Homo sapiens: one gene and its partners. The protein of the gene in region 1 interacts with the protein of each later gene in a pairwise test. Each region holds a gene or a part of one and is shown in the gene's direction. Other genes may lie near its edges.

The links.
Region 2: the proteins of GRIPAP1 (region 1) and DISC1 interact in binary tests that used the Homo sapiens proteins (3 or more experiments, as listed by UniProt).
Region 3: the proteins of GRIPAP1 (region 1) and CFAP53 interact in binary tests that used the Homo sapiens proteins (3 or more experiments, as listed by UniProt).
Region 4: the proteins of GRIPAP1 (region 1) and TSHZ2 interact in binary tests that used the Homo sapiens proteins (3 or more experiments, as listed by UniProt).

What each region holds. Positions count from the first base shown.
Region 1 is NC_000023.11:48,978,255-48,985,281, reverse strand, and holds part of GRIPAP1 (GRIP1-associated protein 1), read left to right. Parts: coding exon 1-14; intron 15-1,411; coding exon 1,412-1,507; intron 1,508-1,841; coding exon 1,842-2,054; intron 2,055-2,189; coding exon 2,190-2,303; intron 2,304-3,409; coding exon 3,410-3,487; intron 3,488-3,590; coding exon 3,591-3,686; intron 3,687-3,809; coding exon 3,810-3,866; intron 3,867-3,967; coding exon 3,968-4,067; intron 4,068-6,846; coding exon 6,847-6,977; intron 6,978-7,027. UniProt on the Homo sapiens protein: Regulates the endosomal recycling back to the neuronal plasma membrane, possibly by connecting early and late recycling endosomal domains and promoting segregation of recycling endosomes from early endosomal membranes.
Region 2 is NC_000001.11:232,007,781-232,014,807, forward strand, and holds part of DISC1 (disrupted in schizophrenia 1 protein), read left to right. Parts: intron 1-1,004; coding exon 1,005-1,269; coding exon of another isoform or gene 1,270-1,374; exon of another isoform or gene 1,375-1,874; intron 1,875-7,027. UniProt on the Homo sapiens protein: Involved in the regulation of multiple aspects of embryonic and adult neurogenesis. Required for neural progenitor proliferation in the ventrical/subventrical zone during embryonic brain development and in the adult dentate gyrus of the hippocampus.
Region 3 is NC_000018.10:50,242,491-50,249,517, reverse strand, and holds part of CFAP53 (cilia- and flagella-associated protein 53), read left to right. Parts: intron 1-6,401; coding exon 6,402-6,618; intron 6,619-7,027. UniProt on the Homo sapiens protein: Microtubule inner protein (MIP) part of the dynein-decorated doublet microtubules (DMTs) in cilia axoneme, which is required for motile cilia beating.
Region 4 is NC_000020.11:52,975,347-52,982,373, forward strand, and holds part of TSHZ2 (teashirt homolog 2), read left to right. Parts: intron 1-7,027. UniProt on the Homo sapiens protein: Probable transcriptional regulator involved in developmental processes. May act as a transcriptional repressor.

The sequences.
Region 1 (7,027 bases):
ACTCCCAGCTCCAGGTAACACCTTTGGCTCTGGCCTGTCTCTTCCTAGTTCCCTAGTAATGGCCCAGTGAAGTCCCCAGTAAGGTGGAGTGGGAAGACTGGAGTCAGGAGGACCTAGGTTCCAGTCTGGCTCCCTAACTTATTAGCACCTGTGTGTTCTGGGACAAGTCATTTCACTTCTCTGAAACTGAGCCTCTTCAGTTAGTTAGGATATCAATTCTTTTTCATTTTTTAAATTTTAATTTAATTTAATTTTTTTTTGAGATGGAGTCTTGCTCTGTCACCTAGTCTGGAGTGCAGTGGCGTGATCTCGGCTCACTGCAAGCTCCGCCTCCCGTGTTCTCGCCATTCTCCTGCCTCAGCCTCCCGAGTAGCTGGGACTATAGGCGCCTGCCACCATGCCCAGCTAATTTTTTGTATTTTTAGTAGAGACGGGGTTTCACCGTGTTAACCAGGATGGTTTCGATCTCCTGACCTCGTGATCTGCCCGCCTCGGCCTCCCGAAGTGCTGGTATTACAGGCGTGAGCCACCACGCCCGGCTCCTTTTTTTTTTTTTTTTTTTTTTTTGAGATGGAGTCTCACTCTGTTGCCCAGGCTGGAGTGCAGTAGCGCGATCTCAGCTCACTGCAACCTCCGCCTCCTGGGTTCAAGCGATTCTCCTGCCTCAGCCTCCGGAGTAGCTGGGATTACAGGCGCCTGGCACCACGCCCAGCTAATTTTGTATTTTTAGTAGAGACGGGGTTTTACCATGTTGGTCAGGCTTCTCAAACTCCTGACCTCAGGAGATCTACCCGGCTCAGCCTCCCAAGCAATATCCATTCTGATTCCATAATAGAAACCAGAATAATAGTAGATTAAATAAGATACAAATTTAGTTCCCTCTCATTAAAAGTCCAGGTAGGTTATTCAGGGATGGAATGATGGCTTTCCAGTCATCTGTGACCCAGGTTCTTTCTCCATTGCTGTTCCTCCACCTTCAACACAAGACTTTTATCTTGGCATCCAAGACGGTTGCTGAAACTCCCCGACCATCATGTTTGTATTCTATCTGGAAGGAAGGAGGAAAGGGGCAGGGAAGAGTGTGCCCCTTTCCTTTAAGAGCATAACCTAAATTACACTCACCACTTCCACATACAGAAATAAATCACATGGCCACACCTAACCATAAGGGAGGAGGGGAAACATCTGCTAGACAGCTGTATGCCCGATGATAAATTTTATTGCTAGGGAAGTAAGGAAGAATGAATACTGGGGAGCAACTAGCAGTCTCTGCTATATTTCCTATCCAGAAATTGAGATCACAATACCAACTTTACCAGGGAGAAGGGAGATGGTCTACCAGATGGTCCTGGGTGACTAGCACCTACTGGATGCTCTTTATCAAACTCTTTCCCTTTGGTGTCTGCATTAGGAGTCATTACGGGCCAATAGTCGACTGCTGGAACAACTTCAAGAAATAGGGCAGGAGAAGGAGCAGTTGACCCAGGAATTACAGGAGGCTCGGAAGGTAGGGGAACATGAGGGTTGAAGGGAGAGGATGGGGGGTAGGAATTGGCTCAGTCCATGGGGATGGGAGGAGGTGATATAACCAAACATGTGGGGATAGGAGGGAAAGGAAAATTGACTGGTTTCTGGTTGACCAGTTTCTTGGCCAAATCCATGAGAGTGGGAGGGGAAAGAAAGAAAGTGACCAGTTCTATAAGGATGGGTGAGTGCCTTAGCCAGTTCAGTGGGGATGGGAGGGAGTGGAGTTTGGCTAGTTCCTTGGGCATGGGAAGAGGGTTGGAGGCCTTTTTTCGATGTTGTGGAAGGAAGTTGACTGCCATCGTCCTGGCCCCCAGAGTGCGGAGAAGCGGAAGGCCATGCTGGATGAGCTAGCAATGGAAACGCTGCAAGAGAAGTCCCAGCACAAGGAAGAGCTGGGAGCAGTTCGTCTACGGCATGAGAAGGAGGTGCTGGGGGTGCGTGCCCGCTATGAGCGTGAGCTCCGAGAGCTGCATGAAGACAAGAAGCGTCAGGAGGAGGAGCTCCGTGGGCAGATCCGGGAGGAGAAGGTGGGTGGGTAGATGATGATGCCCTTCTTCCTCTAAAACCTGGGAACCACAGCGTTGCTGATAGGCCAGTGGGTGGCATGCATCAGGTGCCCGCTCCTCTGCCTTCCTGGCCCATGACAGTCTGCCCCATCCCAGGCCCGGACACGGGAGCTGGAGACTCTCCAGCAGACAGTGGAAGAACTTCAAGCTCAGGTACATTCCATGGATGGAGCCAAGGGCTGGTTTGAACGGCGCTTGAAGGAAGCCGAGGTGAGTTGGTGATGCCTGGTGAGGAACAGAGGCTGATTGGGGCCCTCATGTCAAACCACAGAAGCAGGAGTGGTCAGGCCCTGGAACTTCCCGAGATTTTCTGGACTTAGGGATATCCCCACAGTCCCCTGGCTCAATAGCAGCCCTCTGGAGTGGATCAGGGGATGGCCATCAGATAGGACAGACTGTCACGTGTTAAGGCTGCCCTGCCTTTGTGCAAATTTGGAAAGGCACCTCTTTCTCCTGAAACTGTACTTCTGTCAGGAAATTAATGCAATACACTGATGTTATTGAACAAGAACCTGCTGGGTGCGGTGGCTCACGCCTGTAATCTCAGCACTTTGGAAGGCCGAGGTGGGCGGATCACTTGAGGTCAGGAGTTCAAGACCAGCCTGGCCAACATGGTGAAACCCTGTCTCTACTAAAAATACAAAAATTAGCCGGGCATGGTGGCTGGCGCCTGTAATTCCAGCTACTCAGGAGGCTGAGGCAGAAGAATCACTTGAACCCAGGAGGCAGAGGTCGCAGTGAGCTGATATCGTGTACTGTACTCCAGCCTGGGTGACGGAGTGAGACTCTGTCTCGGAAAAAGAACCTTTGTTGCCATTTTCTGGAAATCTCATAATACACTGAAAGGCATTGTCATGTAGCAGTGAAGAGCACAGGCTGGAGCCAGTTGTTTGTCTAGGTTTGAATCCTGGCTGGGCCATTTCCTAGCTGTGTGACCTTGGGCAAGTTATCTGACCTCTCTGTGGCCTGTTTTCATCAATGGTAAAAAGGGGGTAACAATAATATCTACCATCTAGGTATTACGGGAGGATTATAGAAAATGAGTTAATATATGTAAAACCCTTAGAACATTCTTGGCATGTAGTAAGCGCTATGTTTTGTTAAATAAAATAAAATGTAAATGCAAATCTAAGTCAACCATGCGAATGGTGCAACTTTAGATGTGACACTTCAGCATATTGCCTAAGGGCGTGTGGGGTTCCCTGCAGGAGGGTCATTTCTGCATACCTCTGGGCCCCCATTGCAGTCCCTCATACCCCTAACTGGGCATGATACCTTCTGGGGGGCTGTGGCCAGACCTGGGACTTGTCTTGTAGGAATCCCTGCAGCAGCAGCAGCAGGAACAAGAGGAAGCCCTCAAGCAGTGTCGGGAGCAGCACGCTGCCGAGCTGAAGGTGCCTCTCGCATGATGGTGTTCCTCTCTCCAGACAGTGACGGGCCCTCCTGGGAGGACAGAGGCTTCCCAAGCCAATGCCTAAGCTGCTTTCTGCTTTGCAGGGCAAGGAGGAGGAGCTACAGGATGTACGGGATCAGCTCGAGCAGGCCCAGGAGGAGCGGGACTGCCACCTGAAGACCATTAGCAGCCTGAAGCAGGTCAGTGGTCACTGCACAGCCCCAGACACACCCCTGATCCTCAGCGTACAGGAGGGGCAGGGAGGGAGCATGCTTCAGGCAGCCCTTCCGGCATCTACCAGCCATGCCTGCTTTCTCCCACAGGAGGTGAAGGACACAGTGGATGGGCAGAGGATCCTGGAGAAGAAGGGCAGTGCTGCGGTAAGACAGAGCGGTGCCCAAGCACGGCTCCCTCCTACCTGTAGCCTCCCTCCTATGGGCCCACTGGGCCTCAGTCCTCATGTTACCCCTGTCCCCCACAGCTCAAGGACCTCAAGCGGCAGCTGCATTTGGAGCGGAAACGGGCAGATAAGCTGCAGGAGCGACTGCAGGACATCCTCACTAACAGCAAGAGCCGCTCAGGTGAGGGACTAGGACAGGGAGAGGAGGCTGAGGCATGGGGGAGGTAGGGCCTGGGCCTGCAGGCTGCAGGTTAGTCCTGCATCTTCCTCAGCTGTGCTTTCCTGCTTCTGTCGCTCTGGAACTCCATCTTTTACCTTTTCTCTGTCTCTCCTCTGATTCTTTCTCTGCATTCTCTCTTTATTTCTATCTTTCTCTCGTTTTTGCCCTGTCTCTTCTCTGTTTCTGTCTCTGCCTCTGTCTCAGTTTGTTCTCTCTCTTTCCTCTATGTTTGCCTTTATCTCCTTGCTTTCTTTCTCTAGTTTTCTCCTTTTCTCTCTCTTTTTTTTTTTTTGAGACAGAGTTTCGCTCTTGTTGCCCAGGCTGGAGTGCAATGGTGTGATCTCGGCTCACCGCAACCTCTGCCTCCTGGATTCAAGCAATTCTCCTGCCTCAGCCTCCTGAGTAGCTGGGATTACAGGCATGCACCACCACGCCCAGCTAATTTTGTATTTTTAGTAGAGACGGGGTTTCTCCATGTTGGTCAGGCTGGTCCCGAACTCCCGACCTCAGGTGATCCGCCCGCCTCAGCCTCCCAAAGTGTTGGGATTATAGGCATGAGCCACTGGGCCCGGCCCCCGCCCTTTCTTTTCTCTGTCCCTTTATCTCTTCCCGCCACTCTGTGTCCTCTTCGTCTCTTCTGTTTATATCTCTGTCTGTCTCCTCACTGTATGTACTACATTACACACTCCCACACCTCACTTGGCATTTCTAAATCTATTGTATACAATCTCTCATTCTATAAATCTCCCTGCTCAAGTACAGGGTCCCTGATATAAAACTCCCTGAGTCTCTGCCCTCTAGAAGCCCCCAGTTGAGCTACGGAGACAGACTTATACATAGTCAGCAACGCTGTGGTGTTTTCATTATACAGCTAATCCAATCTGTTATTTCTGCCACTTCAAGCAGAAGACACACACACACACACACACACACACACACACACACACACAACTTTAGTTGCTTCAGCCTTTTTTAAGACGGGGATGGCCTATAAATACATTTAAGTAAGTAAAATGCAGTGATGGCTCTGGTGCATCTCTTAGATTACAGACTCAGAGAAAACTTGGTCCCTTATTCCCCCACTCGGGATACCTACGGATCCCCACTCAGTCACCCCACCCTTGCCAGAGATCCTCGAGGGCTTTAAGTGATGTGGCAAAACAGATGTGTATCTCTCACCAAATCAATTTCTCTCTGAGGCACTCGGTCTCCTGAAGTAACCTTTCTTTAAAAAGGAGTTTTGTTTCTGTTTTATCACAGATGAATGTAAGAATCTTGGGAAAGGTGTAATCCCAGCACTTTGGGAGGCCAAGGTGGGTGGATCACCTGAGGTCAGGGGTTCAAGACCAGCCTGGCCAACACGGTGAAACCCCGTCTCAACTGAAAATACAAAAAATTAGCTGGGTGTGGTGGCGGGCGCCTGTAATCCCAGCTACTTCGGGAGGCTGAGTCAGGAGAATTGCCTGAACCCAGGAGGCAGGGGTTGCAGTGAGCCGAGATTGCGCCATTGTACTCCAGCCTGGGCGACAAGACTGAAACTCTGTCTAAAAAATAATAATAATAATAATCTTGGGAAACGTTACAATCGTATACCATACATTCAATACATTCACCTTGTCCATTAGATTAAACTGAGATTTAGGTGCGTGGGTACGAGAGCCTGCTTGCATTTCTTTTTTTTTTTTTTTTTTTTTTTTGTTAGACGGAGTCTCGCTCTGTCGCCCAGGCTGGAGTGCAGTGGCGCGATCTCGGCTCACTGCAACCTCCGCCTCCCGGGTTCACACCATTCTCCTGCCTCAGCCTCCCAAGTAGCTGGGACTACAGGCACCCGCCACCACGCCCACCTAATTTTTTGTATTTTTAGTAGAGACGGGGTTTCACCGTTTTAGCCAGGATGGTCTCGATCTCCTGACCTCGTGATCTGCCCGCCTCGGCCTCCCAAAGTGCTGGGATTACAGGCGTGAGCCACCGCGCCCGGCATCTTTTTTTCTCTCTGTCTCTGCTCTGGCTCACTTCTTTCACCAGGGTCTCAGTTTCTATCATCTGCTCTGGCTTTCCATCTCTGGCATTTTCTTTCTGCAAGTGGATGTGCCCTGTGCCCTCTCTAGCTGTCTTCCTTTCTCTGAACCCTGTGTCCAAGTGTGTCTGCCACTTGAGACCCATGTGTACCCATGTCGTTCTCTTTCTCCAACCTCTTCCATTTTCTCCCTCTCATTTTGTATGTGTTTCTCCAGAAAGGCAGCTCTTTCTTTTCTTTCTGTTTTTTTTTTTTTTTTTTTTGAGACAAGAGTCTCACTCTGTCACCCAGGCTGGAGTGCAATGGTGCGATTTCGGCTCACTGTAACCTCCGCCTCCTTGGGTTCAAGCGATTCTCCTGCCTCAGCCTCCTGAATCGCTGGAATTACAGGCACACACAACCACACCTGGCTAATTTTTGTATTTTTAGTAGAGACGGGGTTTCTTCATGTTGGCCAGGCTGTTCTCGAACTCCTGACATCAAGTGATCAGCCCACCTCAGCCTCCCAAAGTGCTGGGATTACAGGTGTGAGCCAGTGCGCCCAGCCTCAGCTCTTTTTTCTGTCTCTGTCTCTCCCTGTCCTCCTGTCTGCTTCTGCCTTTCCCCATGCCCAGGTGTCTCTCTTTCCATCTCTGTTAAATCTATTTCTGCCTCTTCCTGCTGGTTGCTGCCCTGGGACTCAGGGGTATTGGGGCTCAAGTTTCTCTTCCCTCCACCACCCAGGCCTTGAGGAGCTGGTTCTCTCAGAGATGAACTCACCAAGCCGGACCCAGACAGGGGACAGCAGTAGCATCTCCTCCTTCAGCTACCGGGAGATCTTGCGGGAAAAGGAGAGCTCGGCTGTTCCAGCCAGGGTAAGGGGAAAGGAAGAACCTACAGCTCCAGCTTCTCTCAACCCAAAAAT
Region 2 (7,027 bases), on another chromosome or scaffold:
ATGATATGGTTAGGCTTTGTGTCCCCACCCAAATTTCATCTTGAATTGTAATCCCCATAATCCCCAAATGTTAAGGGAGAGACCAGGTGTAGGTAATTGAATCATGGGGGCAGTTTCCCCAGTGCTGTTCCCAGGATAGTGAGTTCTCATGAGATCTGGTGGCTTTATAAAGGGCTCTTTCCCCCTGCGTTCTGCACTTCTCCTTCCTGCCACCATGTGAAGAAGGTGCCTTGCTTCCCCTTCACCTTCTGCCATGATTGTCAGTTTCTTGAGGCCTCCCCAGCCACACTGAACTGTGAGTCAATTAAACCTCTTTCCTTTGTAAATTAACGAGTCTTGGGCAGTTCTTTTTAGCAGAATGAAAACAGACTAATACAATAGAGTCTAGCAATAGAGTGGAGAACAACATAGTTACAAGCTCTGCCCTCAGGGAAAAGAAAACAATAATCACATAAATAATTAGAATTGTCATAAATACTCTGAAATAAAAGTAAAAAATGCTAAGAGATCCATCATATTTTCCAGTTGGAAGGCAGGGAATGTTTCTCCCAAAAAGGTTATTTAAGCCGAGTTCTGAAGATAATATGATTTAGTCAGATGAAGGCCTGGTTATATGTGTGTTGATGGAGAATGGACAGAGAGAGTTGATCTAGCCTGGAAGAGTTGGACAGGTCTGAGGATTCAAAGCAAGTCAGTAGGGCTGGTAACACATATATGAGCAGAAACTGTGTTGTATTGGGCTGCTGAGTCTGGAAAAATACATAGGATTTTGGATGCCTTTGCAGACCAAGCAGCTAAGGACCAGCACATTTCATGGTGACTTGATGGTGTGCAAATTTGGTCCCTCTGATGAATCTTCTAGTTGAAATAATTTATCACTGTGAAATTAAGTCATCAAGTATAAGATGACCAGCTGACTTTTAGCCAGGTAGACAAGCTATCGACTTGGTATGATGAAACATCACTGAGTTCATTTTTATGCCTTTGTTTCCTCTCTGTCTCAGCTGCAAGTGTCCACTGCTTGGGAAAGTGTGGGAAGCTGACTTGGAAGCTTGTCGATTGCTTATCCAGAGCCTACAGCTCCAGGAAGCCAGGGGAAGCCTGTCTGTAGAAGATGAGAGGCAGATGGATGACTTAGAGGGAGCTGCTCCTCCTATTCCCCCCAGGCTCCACTCCGAGGATAAAAGGAAGACCCCTTTGAAGGTATTGGAAGAATGGAAGACTCACCTCATCCCCTCTCTGCACTGTGCTGGAGGTGAACAGAAAGAGGTCTGTCCTTTTCACATGGCCTCCAGAGGGGACCCTTATTCTAAGGGGTGCTTTGGGACCATGCTCCAAATGGGAACAATAAATATTGGGAAGGCTTCCCATTGAGCATATAAACTTTTAAAAGTTTCAATAACTCTTGAATATGATTACAAAATAAAGTAGAATTTTTGTAGAAGTTTGAAATATAGAAGAGCAAAAAAACCCAACTTTTGGCATATTTAGTTCCATTTTCATTCTAATTTAGTGGCTAGAATTAGAATATGCAGTCTAATATAGAATTACCATATATAGCATACATTATATATGTCATATATAATATAGTTATTATATTCACTATAGATTATATATGCCATACATGATATTTAACATATATACTATACATTATGTATTGTATGTCATATATGATGTTTATATATTTAGAATCTATATATTACAATATATTATTATTTATTTGAATGAAACATTCAAATATATGTATTTATCCCATTAATTGTTTTTACCAAAACCAGATCATAATGAATGTTTATAATGTTCTTCTTTCATAAACACAACTAAAGTTTGGCCTGAGATATATGTATTACAAATTAAAATATGGTTTTATTTAACTTTCTTTTTCTCTCCCCTCTTTCCTCTCTCCCTTCCCCTTCCACTCCTCACTTTCCTCCTCCCACCCTAACAAGAGTCTTTTCCATAAAAAGGCCCTAGGAAGTTTTTCCTGATTTCAGTGCCATGACCTGAGTCTTCAGAGCTCTTTGTTGGCCCAGGTTCACAGGTGTTGTGAGTGTGGAAAGGAAATAGCATGGAGAGGCTGGAGGAACTTGACACATGGCTTTCAAGTCTCATGGTTGATGTTAGATGTTAGCTGTGCTTCCTCCCTGGGTCTTTGCCAGGACTCACCACTGGTGGGTGGGGAAATTGCCACCTCCCCAGGCCAGCCCTGCCAGTCTCACATCCCATCTGCAGGACCATGGCCTTCAGAGAGCAGACATTTGTGTTCTTAGTCACTGCCTCTGGACTGCTTAGAAAATCGATCCTTGATCCTATATTTGGATTCCATGGTCTTATAAGAAAGCAACCACTGTCACTCTGCATCCTTGCTGGCCCAGTCACAGGCTCTACGTTAATTTATAGACATCTGAACTCGTTTGTTAACCCAGGTGCTACAGGTGGAATCCTCCAGCAAAGCCTGGTCTCCAATGCTCTGGGTAGAGGTGTTGAAAAGTTACCACCTGCTGCAAGTGGATGGCTTGAAAGAATATTCTGGGGTGGAGGGAAGTGCCACCTAAGCAAGGGTTTATTCCTGGGTGGAAGAAACTGCAGGCTCTGGGAATGAGTCTTTGAAGGTGTGTCTGGCTTTCCAAAGTGAGCTACCAGGAGGAGCTCGGTGTGGGGCAGTCAGAAGCCATGCCAGGTATGTGATGGAGTCCCTGGGTCATTGATTCTGCTGGAGGCCAGGACTGATTCAGCAGAGATCCCTTTCTCCTGTAGCGGAGAAAAATGAATATCTTTCCTTTACCCATCTAAAGGTTCTCAGCTGAGGCACCTATACAGACAGAGTAACAAGAGAAAAATGTACAAATGTGCTTAATATAAAATTTACATGACACAGGAGCCTGCAAAAATGAAGACCCAAAGCAACAGAAACCAGTGTATTTTTATGCTTAAGTTTGAAGAATAGCAGACAGATGTGGAGAAGTATAATTGGACAAAAGGAGTATGATTTAATGGCAATAAACTGGGGGGAGCTTAGCAAGGCCTGTTTGCTCGGATTCTTCGCTGCATCCCTGTGTCTTCAGAGATAAGGATACTCCTTTCCTTTGGGTATAGGTTGTACACTTTAAAGATGAGGGTGTTATAATCTACTTTAGAGGAAGGTCAGATAATTATTTATGGCCTGCTTCAGGAAAGAATGGCTGCAGAAGGTCAGAGAGACTTTCCTGCTTCTGCTGTTCCTCAAATGCCAAGGTGCCATATTTTGGGGTAGTGTATTCTGAACCCCATCACTCTCTCCCTCCCTTTCTCCCTCCTTCTCTGCCCTGCCCACTGAGCCCTGAGCCCTCCAGGTTCTCTGGGGACAGACTTTCCCAGGCATAGGAGGATTCGTTTTCCTGCATAGCATTATAAGCACCTGTCAATTTCACTATCTGGCTATAAGAACACAGAGCTATATTTGTTGAAAAATAGGAAGCTTGGGGTCAAGGATGAAAAAAGAGTGGAGCCTTATCCTAGGTCCTGTGGTGGCTGCTGTTTGGGTGCTCCAGGGGTCCCCCAGAAAGCCTCCCAGATCCTCTCCACCAATTGAAATGCTGAGGATGTCCTACATTTATTTGTTGCTTTCTTGGGGGTGAGTGGGTGCTTTAGAGGGGACCTTACAGCTTTTGCTGGCTTTCAGTATCATTTCCCTGTTCCTGTATCGCAGTGCTGGATTTATTTTCACAGAGAGGGCAGCCGTTCTCTGAATTCATGAGTGCCATGGATTTTAAGACAATGTTTTCTGAGAACGGCAAAATTATGGGGCCAGAAAACAGATAAATTGTTGCCAGGAAAGGGGAAGGGACTCATTACAAGAGCAACAGGAAGGAATTTGGTGCGTGGAAGTTGGGGGCGGTTGATAGAAGTATTCTCTCTCTTGATTGTGGTGGTAGTTACGTGACTGTGTGTATGTCTAAATCCATAATTTTACATCAGAAAGAGTGAATTTTACTGTGTATGACTTTATAACAATTATTTTAAAAAGTTTTTTTAAATGTCTACCTATTTAAAAACCGGGCTATAGATGTTTGAGTCAGTGCTTTTGTCTCAGGGCTATCAAAACGCAGTGTGGCCTGCTGGAAAGAGCACAAGGCTTGAGTCTGAGTCTGCCGTGATCCTCAGTTAGGCCTCTTACAGGCCGCATCTCCACATCTGTTAAGAAAAACACCACCACGACATAAGAGGATAATGAAAACTATCTCATGAAGCTGTGATGAAGATTTAAATAAAAGGATGCATCACGAAGTGAGAGACGCATACCTAGTAGAGGCTAATTTGTGTTAACTTTTGTTTCTATCACTCTTTCTGGCAGTCACAAGCATCTCTAAAATGCTTTTTGCATGCATAATGCTAGCAACAGCTATTTGTTTGTATGACTCAGTCTCCAGGCTTAACTTTCCCTTTTGCATAAGGAGTTTGGGGGTGCTTGAGATTGTTACATTTTCCTTTACATGTATAATATACTCACTTTTTGTCAAGAAGTAGACATGAGCAATGAGTTAGTGGAAGATACCCAGTCAGAGAAAGGTTTAACGAAGGAAAACTCCCGTTTGTATTCGGGTCCAGGATTTTAGACTACAGAAGGTATGGGGAAATGATAACAAGGGCCTCATTAGGAAGGTGCTTTTGTTTTCCTGCCTGTGTTTTCCGGGAGCCATTGAAGTCTGGGTACTTTGCATTTATCCTGTGGCTAAAATGTCTATTCGCTTTGCAGCTCTGGGTTGGTTTTGCTTTAGAACTCCGTGCTGGGTCTGACCATCCTATACTGGTTTCTCTACTGAAGCTTGATGCCCTGAAGGCAGTCAATTTCTTTTTGACCCAAATCTTCCATGAAAAATTACTGACTTCTTATAGAGGTCCACAGGAAGATGAGTTTTCAAAGCCTTTCCCGTGCTTATCTGGCCAACGTGGTGATGTGCATTCTGGTGATACTTTGTTATCACAAGGGCTTTGTCGTTGATCGACACCTTCCTGGGTCTACGGTCCTTGCCAGGCTGCTGAGCACCATTCCCCCATTTTACAGCTGGGCCCATTAAGGTGAAGCAATTTGCTTTGGACTTTGTTACAGAGGAAGTCAGCAACAGGGCTCAGTGCCAATCTTAGCATGAACTTCCTCGAATTGTAAGAGCCCTTTTCTTTTCCAGTTTCATGACAGCTCTCCTCCAAGCCTTTCTGAGGACTCTGGAAACTATCAGCTGCTGTTGGCCCTGGTTCGTAGATGTTACAGAAATTGAATGGGGGCCAGACAGGAGCCAGGGAAATCAGTGAGCCAGGCTTCCTCCGCTGTGAAGTGGCTCTTTTGTACGGGCTGTTCTGGCCATAATACCTGCGTAATTTTTTTCTTTCCTGTCTGCAACCTAGCCTGCGGGGTGCTTTCTGTTTCCATTGCTTTTTCTACATAATGGGCTCCCTGGACAGTACCACTCTCCCAGACTTCTCATCCCAGCTGCTTCCTTTCTGAGCCAGTAGCTCTCACCAAAGAGGCCAAAAGAGGACCTGGCAATGTTGAGTCATTGCGTGCAGTATGTGAGTAGCCAGTGTGTGAACACAGCTGCAGTGAACGGAATTAGCAATAAGACACAACGCAACCAGGTAGCCTCATTTGTTCAGATTGAGGTCTTCAAAAAGCATTTTAAGTTTACGGGTGGAAAGGTGTGATACCTTTCCTCAGCCATCATTAAGGGCTAACACTCCTATAACAAAAACAAGTTAACGAGAAAAACATAACACATTTATTTAATCAGAGTTTTACATGGCACAGGAGGCTTCAGAAATGAAGACCCAAAGACCCAGGAAAAACTATTTTTATGCTCAGATTTAATGCAGAATAGTCAGCTATGAAGGAATGTGATTGGACAAAATGGGTATGATCTAATGGTTATAGACTGGGGGGTGAGCGGACCAGCAAGCCCTGTCTGTTCAGATTCTTCTTGGACGCTCTGCATAGTATTTATTCCTCTTGGGTATGGGGCCGGACTCCTCTAAATGGAGGGCCTTCAAGGGAGAAGGAAGAGAGTGACCTTTCTAGGTTTTATGTTTGCTTTGAGGGAGAGGAGTCCTAGTTTCTAAGACTGGCTTTGAGGAAGAGGAATTCTGGTTTCTATGGCTTGCATCCAGGGAGAAAAAGGAGTGTGAGAGGGGAGGGCAAGAGAAGGCAGAGAGATCTTGCTTCTGAGGCCTTCCAATCTCCTTTGGTTCAAAGTACTCAGGCATACCAAAGTGTCACACTTAGGGGTATCATACTGTGAGCCACAACATAAATATCTCCATTCCTTTTTACTCAATTTCACATAAAAAAAGCTGGAAAAGGTGATCCACAATGAAGATGTTTGTCCTCCTTGTCTTAAACTGATTTCTATATCTAGAAATGTCTTTATTGGGCAAAAGTGCTTCCTCTTCAGCCATAATGGGTGCAGATCTGATTCTTTCTCTTCTCTGACACTTACTGGCCCTGGGACAGCTGGAAACTCACTTTGACTCTCCAAGGAGCACATCCCTAAATGTGTGATCTCTTGATATCTCTCCCACTTTTGAAAAGAACTGACAAGGGAAAAATGTTCACTTACCCATCAGCTGGTTTTGCTCTTTTTGTTTAATGTCTTTGGGGAGAAAGCAAAGAGCTAGGACATGAAGAAAACTTCTATCTCCACTACATTTTGAAGTTTTGCAAACCCAGCCATCTTTCCCAAGAGCAGAGCAGTAGAAGCAACCAGGATGCAACCAGGGTTGGTAATTGGTTGGTTAATTAAAAAGTCAGAAAAGACAGAGAGTCATAAAAGATGATGCATGCGTATTTTAAACCTTTTTGTTTCTAGCTGAAAACATGCCCTCTCATTTGCTATTCATTCGATATAGGACCAAGTATTTCTGTTTGTAGAGCCTGCTGATTGGCTTTTCACATGACCCTCGTTGTGTAAACCTCACCTATCATGCATCATTAACAGTTTCCACTTTTGGTGTCTTTAAAGTGGGCTGGAAACGTTAAGAGCACTTGCAAAACAATTCT
Region 3 (7,027 bases), on another chromosome or scaffold:
TTGAGACAGTCTTGCCCTGTCACTCAGGCTGGAGTGCAGTGGTGTGGTCTCAGCTCCCTGCAGCCTCAACTTCCCAGGCTCAACTGATACTTCAGCCTCAACCTCCTGAGTAGTTGGGATTACAGGCACAAGCCACCATGCTCAGCTAGTTTTCTTATTTTTTGTAGAGATGGGGTCTCACTATGCTGCCCAGGCTGGTCTTGAACTCCTGGGCTCAAGTAATCCTCCTGCCTTGGCCTCCCAAAGTGTTGTGTTTACAGGCATGAGCCACTGCACCCAGCCTTCTTTTTATTCTTTTTTTTTTTTTTTTTTTTGAGATAGAATTTTGCTCTTGTTGCCCAGGCTGGAGTGCAGTGGCGTGATCTCGGCTCACTGCAACCTCCGCCTCATGGGTTCAAGCGCTTTTCCTGTCTCAGCCTCCCGAGTAGCTGGGATTACAGGCGGGTGCCACTGCGTCTGGCTAATTTTTGTGTTTTTAGTAGAGACAGCGTTTCGCCACGTTGGCCAGGCTGGTCTCAAACTCCTGACCTCAGGTAATCAACCTGCCTCGGCCTCCCAATTTATTCTTGAGTAGTGTTCATGGTATAGATTTACCACAGTTTGTTTAGCCATTTACCTGTTGAAGGACATTTGAGTTGTTTCCAGGTTATGGCTATTATGAGTAAAGCTGCTATAATCATTTGAGTACAGGTTTTTCTGTGAACACATTCTCACTTTTTTTTTTTTTTTTTTTTAGGCGGAGTCTTGCTCTGTCACCCAGGCTGGAGTGCAGTGGCATGGTCTCGGCTCACTGTAACCTCCACCTCCCGGGTTCAAGTGATTCTCCTGCCACAGCCCCCTGAGTAGCTAGGATTACAGGTGTGTGCCACCATGCCTGGCTAATTTTTTCTATTTTTAGTAGAGATGGGATATCACCATGTTGGCCAGGCTGGTCTCAAACTCCCAACCTCAAGTGACCCACCCACCTTAGCCTCCCAAAGTGCTTGGATTACAGGCATGAGCCACCACACCTGGCACAAATCATCATTTCTATGAGATAAATGCCTAGAAGAGCAATTGCTATGTCATATAGTAATTGCATGTTTAGTTTTTTAAAGAAACTGCTAAACTGTTTTTCAGAGTAGCCATACCATGTTACATTCCCACCAGCAATACATGAGCAATCCAGTTTCTCCACATCCTCACCAGCATTTGGTGCTATCACTATTGTTCACTTTTAACCATTCTGATAGATGTGTAGTAACATCTCATTGTGGTTTAATTTACATTTCCCTAATGGCTAATGATTTTGAACAACTTTTTATGAGCCTGTTTTCTATCTGTATGTCTTCTTCAATGAAATGTCTCTTCATGTCTTTTGCCCATTTTCTGTTTTTTTTTTTTTTTTTAATTTTTGTTGAGCCAGTATCTCACTCTGTCACTTAGGCTGGAGTACAGTGGCATGATCATAGCTCACTGCAGCCTCCAACTCCTGGTTTTTGTCCATTATCTAATTGACTTGCTTATTTGATTTCTTTTTCCTGTTGAGTTTTTTGTTCACATTTAAATCATTTTTTTAACAGCTTCAAGAGAGAATTCACATAACATCCAGTTCCCCAGTTTAAACCATACAATTCAGTGGATTTTACTGTTTTCACAGATATGTGCAGCTGTCATCACATTTTATTTTAGAACATTTTCACTATCCTGCTATCCCTTCTTCCCCACCTCCTGCCTCCAGTCCTAAGCAGCCACTTATCAACTTTGTGTCTCTATAGATTTCCCCATTCTGGACTTTGATATGAATGGAATCACATGTTATGTGACCTGTTGACTGTCTTCTTTCACTTAGCATAATGTTTTCAAGATTTATCCACATTGTAGCATGAATCACTATTTTATTTGTTTATGTGGCTGAATGATATTCCATTGTATGGATATGCCACATTTTGTTTATGCATTATGTCAGTTGATGGACATTTGGGTTATTTCCACTTTTTGGCTATCATGAATAATGCTACTATGAACATTCATGTACACATTTTTGTGTGGACATATGTTTTTATTTTTCTTTGGGGCATGTATCTAGAAGTAGTACTACTGGGCCATACGGTAACTCTGTGTTGAAGTTTTGAGGAACTGCCAAACTGTTTTCCAAAGTGGCTGAACCATTTTACATTCCCACCAGCAGTGTATGAGGGTTTTGATTTATCCACATGCTCACCAACACTTGTTATTGTCTGTTTTTTTTATTTTACCCAGCCTAATGCATCTGAATTGGTATCTCATTATGGTTTTTATTTGTATTTCCCTAGTGACTAATGATATTGAGCCTCTTTTCCTGTGCTTATGGTCATTTGTAGATCTTCCTTGGAGAAGTCTATTTGAAGGCTATTCTCTATTCTTAGAGAAGTCTATTCAAGTCCTTTGCCCATATTTTAGTTGGGTTATTGGTCCTTTTATTATTGAATTGTAAGAGTTCTTTTTTTTTTTTTTAAATCTCACTCTTGTCGCCCAGGCTGGAGTGCAATGGTGCAATCTCATCTCACTGCAACCTCCACCTCCCAGGTTCAAGCGATTCTCCTGCCTCAGCCTTCTGAGTTGCTGGGATTACAGGTGCCTGCCACCACGCCTGGCTAATTTTTTTGTATTTTTAGTAGAGACGGGGTTTCACCATGTTGGCCAGGCTGGTCTTGAACTCCTGACCTTAGGCGATCCACCCACCTCAGCCTCCCAAAGTGCTGGGATTACAGGCGTGAGCCACCACGCCTGGCCAAGAGTTCTTTATATTTTCTAGATTCAAGTCTCTTACCAGATAAATGACTTGCAATTATTTTCTTTCATTCTATAGGTTGTCTTTTTACTTTTTTGATGATGTCCTTTGAATCACAAAAGTTTTAAATTTTGACAAAGTTCAATTTAGCTATATTTTCTTTTGTTGCTTATGCTTTAGGGGTCCTATCTAAAAAATGGTTACCTACTCTAGGATCACAAAGATGTACTTCTTTGTTTTCTTGTTAGAGTGTTATAATTTTAGCTTTTACATTTAGGCTTTTGATCCATTTTAAGTTTTGTATATGGCATGAGATAAGGATCCTAATTCATTATTCCTCATGTGGATATCCAGTTATTCCAGCATCATTTGTTGAAATAATTCTCTAATTGTTCCCCTATTGAATTGTCTTATCACCCTTGTCAAAAATCAATTACAGTAAAGTGAAGGTTTATTTCTGGACACTCAGTTCTATTCCATCAATCTATATCTCTATCCTTAGTCCAGTATAACAAATCTATATGTCTTGATTACCGTAGCTTTGTAGTAAGTTTGAAATCAGAAAATGTAAATCCTGGCCTGGTGCAGTGGCTCACGCCTGTAATCCCAGCACTTTGGGAGGCTGAGGCAGGAGGATCACCTGAGGTCAGGAGTTTGAGACCAGCCTGACCAACATGGTGAAACCCCGTCTCTACCAAAAATACAAAAATTAGCCAGGCATGGTGGCCCATGCCTGTAATCCCAGCTACTTGGGAGGCTGAGGCAGGAGAATCGCTTGATCCGGGAGGCGGACGTTGCAGTGAGCTGAGATCGTGTCATTGCACTCCAGCCCGAGCAACAAGAGTGACACTCCACCATTGCACTCCAACCTGGACAACCAGAGTGAAACTTCATCTCAAAAAAAAAAGAGAGAGAGAAAATGTAAATCCTCAAACTTTGTTCTTTTTAAAATTGTTTTGGCTATTCTGGCTCCCTTGCATGTCCAGGTATCTGGAAGTTACATGGATCAGCTTGTCAATTCCTGCAAAGAAGCCAGTTGAGATTTTGGTAAAGATTGTGTTGAACCTGTAGGTCAGTTTGGGAAGTGCTGTCATTTTCACAGTATTGTTTTCTGATTCATGAACTTAAGCTGTCTTTCCATTTATTTAGGTCTACTTTAATTTCTTTCAATAATGTTTCTTAGTTTTCAGAGTATACATTTTAACACTTACTTTGTTAAATTTATTCCTAAGTATAACATTTCTATTTGGAAATAAAATTTTTAATTTCATTTTAGATTGATGCTGTCAAATAGGAATACAAGGAGTTTTGTATATTGGTCTTGTATCCTGCAACATTGCTAAACTCGTTTATTAGTTTTTTTTTTTTTTTTTTTTTGAGACGGAGTCTCGCTCTGTCGCCCAGGCCGGACTGCGGACTGCAGTGGTGCAATCTCGGCTCACTGCAAGCTCCGCTTCCTGGGTTCACGCCATTCTCCTGCCTCAGCCTCCCGAGTAGCTGGGACTACAGGCGCCCACCACCGCGCCTGGCTAATTTTTTGTATTTTTAGTAGAGGCGGGGTTTCACCTTGTTAGCCAGGATGGTCTCGATCTCCTGACCTCATGATCCACCCGCCTCGGCCTCCCAAAGTGCTGGGATTACAGGCGTGAGCCACCGCGCCCAGCCTTATTAGTTTTAATAGTTTTTTTTTTTTTTTTTTTTTTGAGATAGAGTCTCATTCTGTCACCCAGGCTCGAGTGCAGTGGCATGTTCTTGGCTCACTGCAACCTCTGCCTCCCAGGTTCAAGTGATCTTCCTGCCTCAGCCTCCTAAGTAGCTGGGACTACAGGCTTGTGCCACCACACCCAGCTAATTTTTTTGTATTTTTAGTAGAGACGGGGTTTTACCATGTTGGCCAGGCTGGTTTCCAACTCCTGACCTCAAGTGATCTGCCCACCTCAGCCTCCGAAAGTGCTGGGATTACAGGCATGAGCCACCATGCCTGGCCAAGTTTCAATAGTTTTTTAGTGGATTATTAGTTCACTCTTCTTTTTGGTGCTCAGATTGCCTGATTCTAGATCATGAGAGTCCCTTCAAGTGGGCTGTCATGCTCTTTTGATACTGTCCACCAACAGACTTTGATAGTTTTCTTGATTCTGACACAATAAGATGTACCAGGTTCATCCTGTTCAGTTTCTGCTCCAGTCTTATATTGATTATTTTCCCAAGGATTGTTGGTTCTTTTTAGTGGGAAATGGTATTTATCTGTTTTCACACTGCTATAAAGAACTACCTGATATTGGGTAACTTATTTAAAAAAGAAGGTGTAATTGACTCACAGTTTCACATGGCTGGGGAAGGCTCAGGAAACTTAAAATCACAGTGGAAGGGGAAGCAAGGCACGTCTTACTTGGCGACAGGAGGGAGGGAATGAAGAAAGCCACACTTTAAACCATCAGATCTCATGGGAACTCACTATCATGAGAACAGCATGGGGGAAACTACCCCCATGACCCAATCACCTCCCACCAGGTCCCTCCCCTCACACATGGGAATTACAATTCAAGATGTGATTTGGATGGGGACACAGAGCCAAACCATATCAGGTGTTTAATAATATCTACAACCTTGGTATTGGATGAACTCATTGCTATTGGATAGTTACTGCAACATGGCAGTAGCCAACTAAAAATGCCTGCGCTAAATAAACAGCAGGTCTCAACTTTAGCTGCACATTACTATCACCTGGGGGAACGTAAAAGGTATCCATTAATTAGGAATTTCTGGGGGTGGGACTCGGCCCTTGATTTTTTTTGTTTTTGTTTTTTTTTTTTTGAAACGGAGTCTCGCTCTGTCGCCCAGGCTGGAGTGCAGTGGCACGATCTCGGCTCACTGCAAGCTCCGCCTCCTGGGTTCACGCCATTCTCCTGCCTCAGCCTCCCGAGTAGCTGGGACTACAGGCGCCCACCACCACGTCCAGCTAATTTTTTTGTATTTTTAGTAGAGACGGGGTTTCACCATGTTAGCCAGGATGGTCTCAGTCTCCTGACCTCGTGATCCACCCGCCTCGGCCTCCCAAAGTGCTGGGATTACAGGCTTGAGCCACTGAGCCCAGCCAGATGTCAATACTTTGTAAAGCTCCCCAGTGACTCCAAAGTGTAGCTAAGATTGAGAATTGCTGTAATAAAGCACAAAATGACTACCAGCCAGAGAGACAGTGCTCTAATAGTAGAAGTAACTTATTTTGTTGATCAGATTAGGATTTCATATACCTAAATTAAAGTAAATGAAAATAAAGCTGTATCATTGAAAACTATTTGGCAACTACTTTGAGAAACACTTTGGGAAAGTGTTTGAATTAACTTATTCAAACATTTATTATCAAACATTTTAAACAAATACAAAGAATTGCACAATGAGTCCCCACGTGTCCATCACCTCACTTTAACAACCATCAACTGATGGCCATTCTTGTCTCTTCTATATCCCTACCCATTTCCCCCGCTACTCTTGAGTATTTTGGAATAAACTCCAGACATACATCTGTAAATGTTTCAGTACATAGTTCTAAAAGATTGGGATTGGAGCTTTTAAAGATTTTTTTTAAATGTATCCTTACTATAGTATCACACCAAAAAATTTTAACAATATGAATTTTTATGTTACATAGGAAGATATGATAAGAGAACAGAAGATATACCATAAATATTTGGCACAGAGACGTGAGGAAGAAAAAGCTCAGGAGAAAGAATTTGACAGAATATTAGAGGAAGACAAGGCAAAGAAGTTGGCTGAGAAGGACAAGGAGCTGAGACTTGAAAAGGAGGCAAGGAGACAGCTTGTGGATGAGGTCATGTGTACAAGAAAACTTCAAGTTCAAGAAAAGTGTAAGGAACTGAATTACAGTTATATTATAGCTTGCCCTTAATTCAATTTAAGTAACAACCAAAATACTAACAACCATAATACTTATTATGTAAAACACCATGAGGGATGCAAAAAGGATGAAGGCAGGAGGCCTGTTATTGCAAATCTTATCTAATTGGATATATATGAAGAGACCAGCAGATTCCAATCAGTCACGGGGAGAAGTTCTCAAGGTTAAAGGAACAGTACATCATTTGAATACTGTATGTCTTGGTGATTAGAATGAAGAGTGAGAAGGTGGGGCACAGACATACAGCTCCCCCTTGTCCTTTGTATCTGTCCCTCTTTTCTTTCGAAAGTTATCTCCATACAGTTTCGGGAAGTCAGGGACCCTGAATGGAGGGACCGGCTGAAGCCACAGCAGAAGAA
Region 4 (7,027 bases), on another chromosome or scaffold:
ATTACAAAAAGTGCATTGCTCAGAATTGCTCGACTTTGATTATAATTATCCTACGATCGATAAGGATCCAGGTGTACGTAACATAACACTGTATCACATTATTTAAATCAGGTCCTTTTCATTAAGCTGTGTCTGTTGGTGCTGGCTAGTTTATTGGTGTGTGTGGGTGTGTGGGGGTGTGTGTGTGTGTGTGTTAGAAACTTGTAACTATAGTTTCAGTTTTCTGGCCTATTATATTCCTACTGTCTTTGTATGTTTGTTTTGTATGATTCTTATTATTTTCACCAGAAGCGGAAACCCTTTTTAAGCTGAAAAAGGATGATTCATTTCGTACACAGTGAGGGCCCTCTTACCTTATTTATTTGCTCACATATTAATAGAGGAGACAGTTTTTCATGCAGTGTTTCTTCTGTTCATCTAAGGTCATCAATGCCCTACTCTATTTCAGCTGAAGTGGTTATTCACAAGTAAAGTTAGCCACTTTGGGGTTCTGTAGTCAGTTAACATCCAGGGAAGGGGAGAAGGTGGGTTCTAAGATTATGGCCATACTAACTTTTATCACTGCTTAAAATTAAACACAATGCACAACTGTAAGTAATTACACCCAAGGACTGATGTTGAAAGCTTGATTTCTAGCTTGATTAATGAATAATGGGAGATAGAAAAAGCCTGTGAGTGGATCCGAGCTGAGGCTCTCCCGGAGCGCTCTTTTTCCCAAGAACTGTTCCAGGCAATTTGATTCCTTTGTATTATTAGTTATAAGTTCCATGTTTCAAGGAATCAATTACAGAACTTTCTACTAAAGCAGGTATCTAAACAGAATAAACAAGATGATATTGTAAGTGATGAGGAATTTTAGTCTTTATTTGTTATGTTCCTCCCCCTTCAGGGGGAAGGGATGTGAGGGGACAATTCTCTTTAAGGAAACAGCTAAATCAGAGTATTTCCCTCTGAAATGTCATTCTTCCTGGCTTTCTTAAGCTATGCTATTCCACCATACTATTACTTAGGGCAAGAAAAAAAAAGTTGAGAAAGCAGCCTACAGTACCCCAGGGGTTTGTGTTGTGTGTGCATGCTTGCTTCCTTGGATGTATATTTCACTCACCATTAAAATACATCCACTATTACCTGAAAATATTGCAGGATTCAGTACCAGCATTTTCCCCTTCTATGCATTTCAAGGGAGATAGAGAAAATGGCAGGAAAGTAAAACAGAACGGTGTTTTGATTTGTTTGCATTTTGCAGGATGCAGAGTGGTTAAAAATTTAAAATTGTAGACTTAGAATCTAACTCTTGATTTTCTACAGCCTATCTCAGCCTCTGTGCGCGCACATAAATAATACGTATTTTATTTCACCATACTGAACTGCTTTTATATTAATGACAGCCAATTGCAATAGAACACACAATCTTTTGTGAGCACATCTTGTGAATATATCTTTTATATATGTAAGTTATAGGATTCTGCCCCTGCCCACCCAAAGCAATTAGATGTTTCCCTCTTGCTGACTCTTAAAGGCTTTCTGATCACCCAGATCTGAAGAGTCTTGCAAGAAAGAACAGCTCCCTCAATTTATTTTGTTTATTTAATATGGAGATGAATAATGCAGATTTTGTTTTCATGAATGTCCTTGTGTGGCAGTAAACATTAGACTATTAGCAATCATTACTTAAAAGTTGCAATTTGCACCTTAATAACACAGGTTATTTACATGGGAAACATAGTCAACAGGGACAACTCTGAACACTGCAACAGAGCAGAAATGACCTCAGAGATCTCTTTTCCACCTCTTGATAGTGATGACTCTGAATTAACCGGTGAGGTCCCAGAAATCTCAACCAACAGGATGGAGGGAGGGGGCAGGCAGCTCAGGGCGAAGTTTACCTTTAATTTACTGTCAAGTGGGACAGCTTTCAAGAGACTAGGAATCGGGTAGATTTGGGACCCTTCCTCCCTCACTTTGTTTAAACATCCTTCAGAAAGACAAGTTCACATCTTGAATATTTAAATATCTCACGCGATGGATTCCTTCACTTGCCCAAAAGTATGTTTTTAACAAATGAATGGAAAAATACACACACACACACACACACACACACACACACACACACACACACACACGCATGGACACAATAAAGTCCAAAGGGTCTTAGCAGCACAAACTCTTTTGGCCATTCTTGTTACTTAAGGCAGATATCTGAAAAAGGAAGGATAGATTCCTTGAAATCGCTTGGTCCACACAACATTTTGGACGGAAATTGATTGCTTAAGTGGTCCTTTTCCCACCCCCGTCTTGATTTCCTTCTTCCACCTCTCACCTCACCCTTAAAGACTCAGACTGAATAGGACATCTCAAAAGCCCATTTGTTTTAGGCATTTATTGATTTCATTTTTAATCTGCCATATCAGGACACAATACGTTAACCCTAATCAGCAGATTACAAGTGACAGAGAGTTTAGTGGAAACTCTGTAAGGGAGCAGGGGCTCCGGGAAACTTCTTGACAATGAAAATCTTCTCTGAGGCTTAAGAGTTTGGATGCTGAAGATTACTTTTGGGGAGGGGAGAAACATTCCTCAGAAACAGTCTACATTTTTTTCTTCCACTTTACATTTCTTTATCTCCCAGTTGCCCATTCTACTGCTACACTTTGGGAATGCTTAACACCCAAGAAATACCTCCCAAGTATTTTTAGGAGGTCGGTCCCTGAAGCAGCTTGACTTTTGTCATAGTCTCCAACGGACGTTTATGCTTTCATTTCATCCCAGCTGATTTCTCATTCATTTGACGGAATTTCTCCAAAGGATAATACCTGAGTTGATCTGTTTCTTTTCCCAGGGCCTTGGGAATTGTGCTGTCCATTGAATGGGTTTTGGTCATGGGGGTGGGGGCACAGACTGAGCCTGGCATTTTTTAAAGCCATTGAAATGATGCCTCACTGTTCATCACTGCAGCTGAGCTTATCAAGTCAACCAAGAAGAAAACCTAGGCCCTGGTCACGTTTGTGCTATGCCTGTAATTAGCTGACACGAGGTAAATGTCCAAAGTCGACCTTCCCTTCCATCACTGTATTTATACTATCAATTTTATTTGGGAATGTCATGGTCTGGGAAGACTCAGCCACTATTTCGAAGGCAATGCCTGCTTCTACCTAGGTCCCCTTTAAAAAAACACAGAAATTGCCGAACAAATTCTATATTAAGACCAGGCATACACGGAGTATCATTTTCGTTTGATGCAAAGTCAGTTGGAAATACATTTAACTAACAGTTAAATAGTGTCTTGCATCGCTTCCCTGAAGCAGTGGTTTTTCATTACATATTTAATTACAATCAAACTGAACGACTTTTATTAAAAAAATCACAGTGGTATTAAAAGAAGCCTGGCGCACAAATAATTTTATTGCTTCACAAGTTGAGAACGCTTTTATATTTTTATTTCTTTGAGAGAAATTTATTTTAATTTTCTAATGTTGTGATAAATACAGACTATCTTTTACTGTAGTCTGTAATCAGGGAGAGCTTATCCTTCTATCTTTATAGAGTCTGCTTACCCCAGAATAGGTTTTTACATTCATTTTTCAGTAATTTGTAACAATTGGTATTTTTAATTTTTTTTTTAAGTTTTACAAGTTCTATTTAAAGTTAGAAATTCTCACATTCCTTAGGGTGATCTTTGGCAAGCAGCTCTTCGATTATAGGAGGAAGTTAGTCATTCTAACCACATAAGAAAGTGGAGAGTACTTGCTTGCTTACCTGAATATTACAGTAAGAAAAAAACACCATCTATTTACATGCCTCTAACATGTAACACTATTTTCACTGGATTTATAATTTCTTTTTTTTTTCCTCCTACTGACCTTTCATTCACTTGTTTTGGGAACTTTTTCTGAGAAGAACGTTTAGAGATAGCATTTAAAGTGGATTTCAAGATACATCAGATTTTAAGACATTGTAATAAAAATTAGAGACTTCAGAGCCCAACGGTTCACTGCTAGTCTAGGTCTGCAAACTAATGAGAAAGCACCTCTGCAAACACATAGTTTCAACTTTAACTTGCACATGAATGGGGAGCGTCTCCAGCAGTGTGGCCGTATCCATATTGCTCATTTTGTCCGAGAAATTATTTTGTCCAAGGGTATCAGACTGAGGTCCGTTCAAAGACATTATATACATACACAGAGACACAGAAGAGAAATCTGAGATGCGAGTGGGAATTGCTGATATATTTGTTTCCAAAGCAAACTCCATGAATGAAATGATTCAATAATTTGGAGGCATTTGAAAGTCATTAAAATGGCCATTTGGAATTTTCAGTTGTTGCCTCCCTCAATTTTTTACGTTTCCCCTGTAGAAAAAGACATCCTCTGGGCACCCTCAAATATTCTGGGATGCTAAAGTCATGCTAAAATTATTTACAATTTTAGAAATTAAAATTCAGGAGGCACAGCAAGATAATCCGATTATTAATATATCAGTATTATTTAGCTATGCATAACAACAGGAAAACGCACAATGCAAAAGTTTTAGAGATAATGAGCTTAGAGAAATTACATGGGGGGAAGAAATACCTGGATCATATTTGAAAGCATTTGTCTTGAATTCTGCTCATCTAAATGAGAGCTCTCTTTCTACCTGTGTCATTTAAAAAACAATTTCAATATCCTCCTACCTGCTACCCCAGCCTGAAGCAGGGACTAATGAAACTCTCTCTGGACACACAGATGTAAGACACTATATTACACAACACTTTTTAAAAAATTGTTTCAGAAAACCAAATGTGGGCATGCAAACCAAAAGAAAAACCTCAAGGATCTTCGTAAGATAGCTAGCTCAGGGTTCAAGATCAAGAGAACTTTGTTGCGGCAGGATAAGAAGACAACAGCATTGCGTTTTAGCTAAACATCTCTTCTTGGCAAATGAGAAGCGGTGAAGCAGGGAAGATTTTTTTAAGGAGCTTTTTAGCTCTTTTGCATCTCTCTCCAAAGACTAATTTAATTGAAAAGCTGTAGTGTCCATTTATGATTAAGGAAAGGCCTCATGTTTCCACAACACTGCTAGACACTAAGGTGGGTTTGAAGAAAAAAAAAAAAAGGCCAGCATTCTGCAGTTTCTGTTAGTATAAAAATTAAGATCACTGGTCTTAATTACTTGAGTGCTTTCAGAACTGAAGGAATACTCTAAAATCACCCCTGAGCTTTCTTCTTAAAGCCACATCTAAGCCATTTCTATGGAAATTATATAGTTTAGATATTAAGGTGGGTAGAATACAGTTATTGCTTTTAATGAAAATAGTTACGAAGGGCAGAATGAGATAAAAACAGAGTTGGCAGCAGCCATTCTATTTGTAATGAATTTGAAAGAAACTTCCGTAATGCTTTACTGGATCATGAAAAACCCATGAAACCTTGTGACATGGGAGATACAAAAATGAGACAGAGGGTCAAGGTCTTCTATAGGGGAAAAATGGCTTGTGTAAGTGAGAGCAGTGGCATATAAATATCTCTATATAAACTGCACAGGGCTTACTTTAAATCACTTCAATTTATCAGATCCTTGGAATTTTTTTTATGTATTTAGGAGCCTCTCTTTTATACCCCAGAGAGATATGAATAGCTTCTGGGCCAAGATGATGCTGTAGAGAAGAGTCAAATCTATTCTATGTGCACGGTGCCATTTGGTACAGAAGAAATGCCAAAATGAAAAGCCATAAATGCGTTTTATATCAGAATTGCCTTTGGCTATTTTCCTTTATTAGAAAGTTGGGTACACTGCTGAGTGCTTCTTCTTGTTTTCCCCCTTGGGATTAGATTTGAGACTGTGGATGGAACAGCGGAGTAAGGGCAAGTGACTTGGGTTCTGGTTGCAGCCTTGCCCCACGCTAGTTATTTAGCCCCGGGCAAGCTCTAGAGATAAACCTTACTCTCCGGGTAAGAATGTGAGTTTTTGGAGTCAGACTGATTGAAGTTCAAGTCTCTAGGTCTAATTCTTATTCGGCCGCGTAAACTTGGGCAGGCTGCTCAAATCTCTGCCCTCCACTTTCTAATCTATAAAATGGGGGCAATCATATGTTCCAGGTGTGTGGAAAGGATTGTGTCAGAGGAGGGCTGAGAAAGTGTGCTGAAACTGTTAGGCACCACAGGGATACGAGGGAATAGTGTGTCTTTACCCTGAATAACCAGACTATGGAAAATTTATATTAACTGGGAAACAAGCAACTTACCAGTTATCACAGAACAAGGGGTCCAGGGCTTGAAAGAAACCAGATATGGATGGATTTTGATTTGTAAGCCTGGAAACACAATGGCTAAGCAGTGTTTTAGCCTCTTCTCCTGAGGCAGACTCATTCTGGGCTGTTTGGAGTCCAGCACCCGCTCAAAAAAGAGTTTCTTTCCCAAGAAATAGAATTTATAGCACCACCAACAACGGTAACAATGGTAACAATGATATCTGCCACTAAACAAGTGCTTTTTACATACCACGTGCTTTATATGTTTACATTTATTCGTTTACACGGCAGTTATTTCTTGAGTTCCTACTATGTGTCAGATGCTGTTCTACTACCTGGACCTGGAGGTGAATAGGATGGGGATGATCCCTGGGGATCTTGCCCTCCAATTGGGGGAAGCTAGAGAATATACAAAGAAATTTATAAAGGAAAAGATAATTTCAGTATAGAAAAAAAGCTTCATGATGGCAATAGCTTTATAAAAGCAAAATTATGAGAGCAGGAGTTGGGACAACAGAGATGTAGATGGTCAGGGGAGACCTCTCAGAGGAGGGGACATCTGGGCTAAGTCCTGTTCCTTATAACTTTCAAGTATAATCCCTGTTTTACTGATGAGAATCTGAGTAAGTTGCAGGATAACTCATTCAAGTTCGTGCGGTAGCCAAGCTGAGTTTTAAACTCAGCTCTTCCTGCTTCCAAAGTCCATGCATTTAATTTATTATGATCGTTTATCTAGAATAGTCATAGCGAGTTGCCAGGAAGGACCCAAGGAAGAACCCTCAGTCTTATTATTCTCCC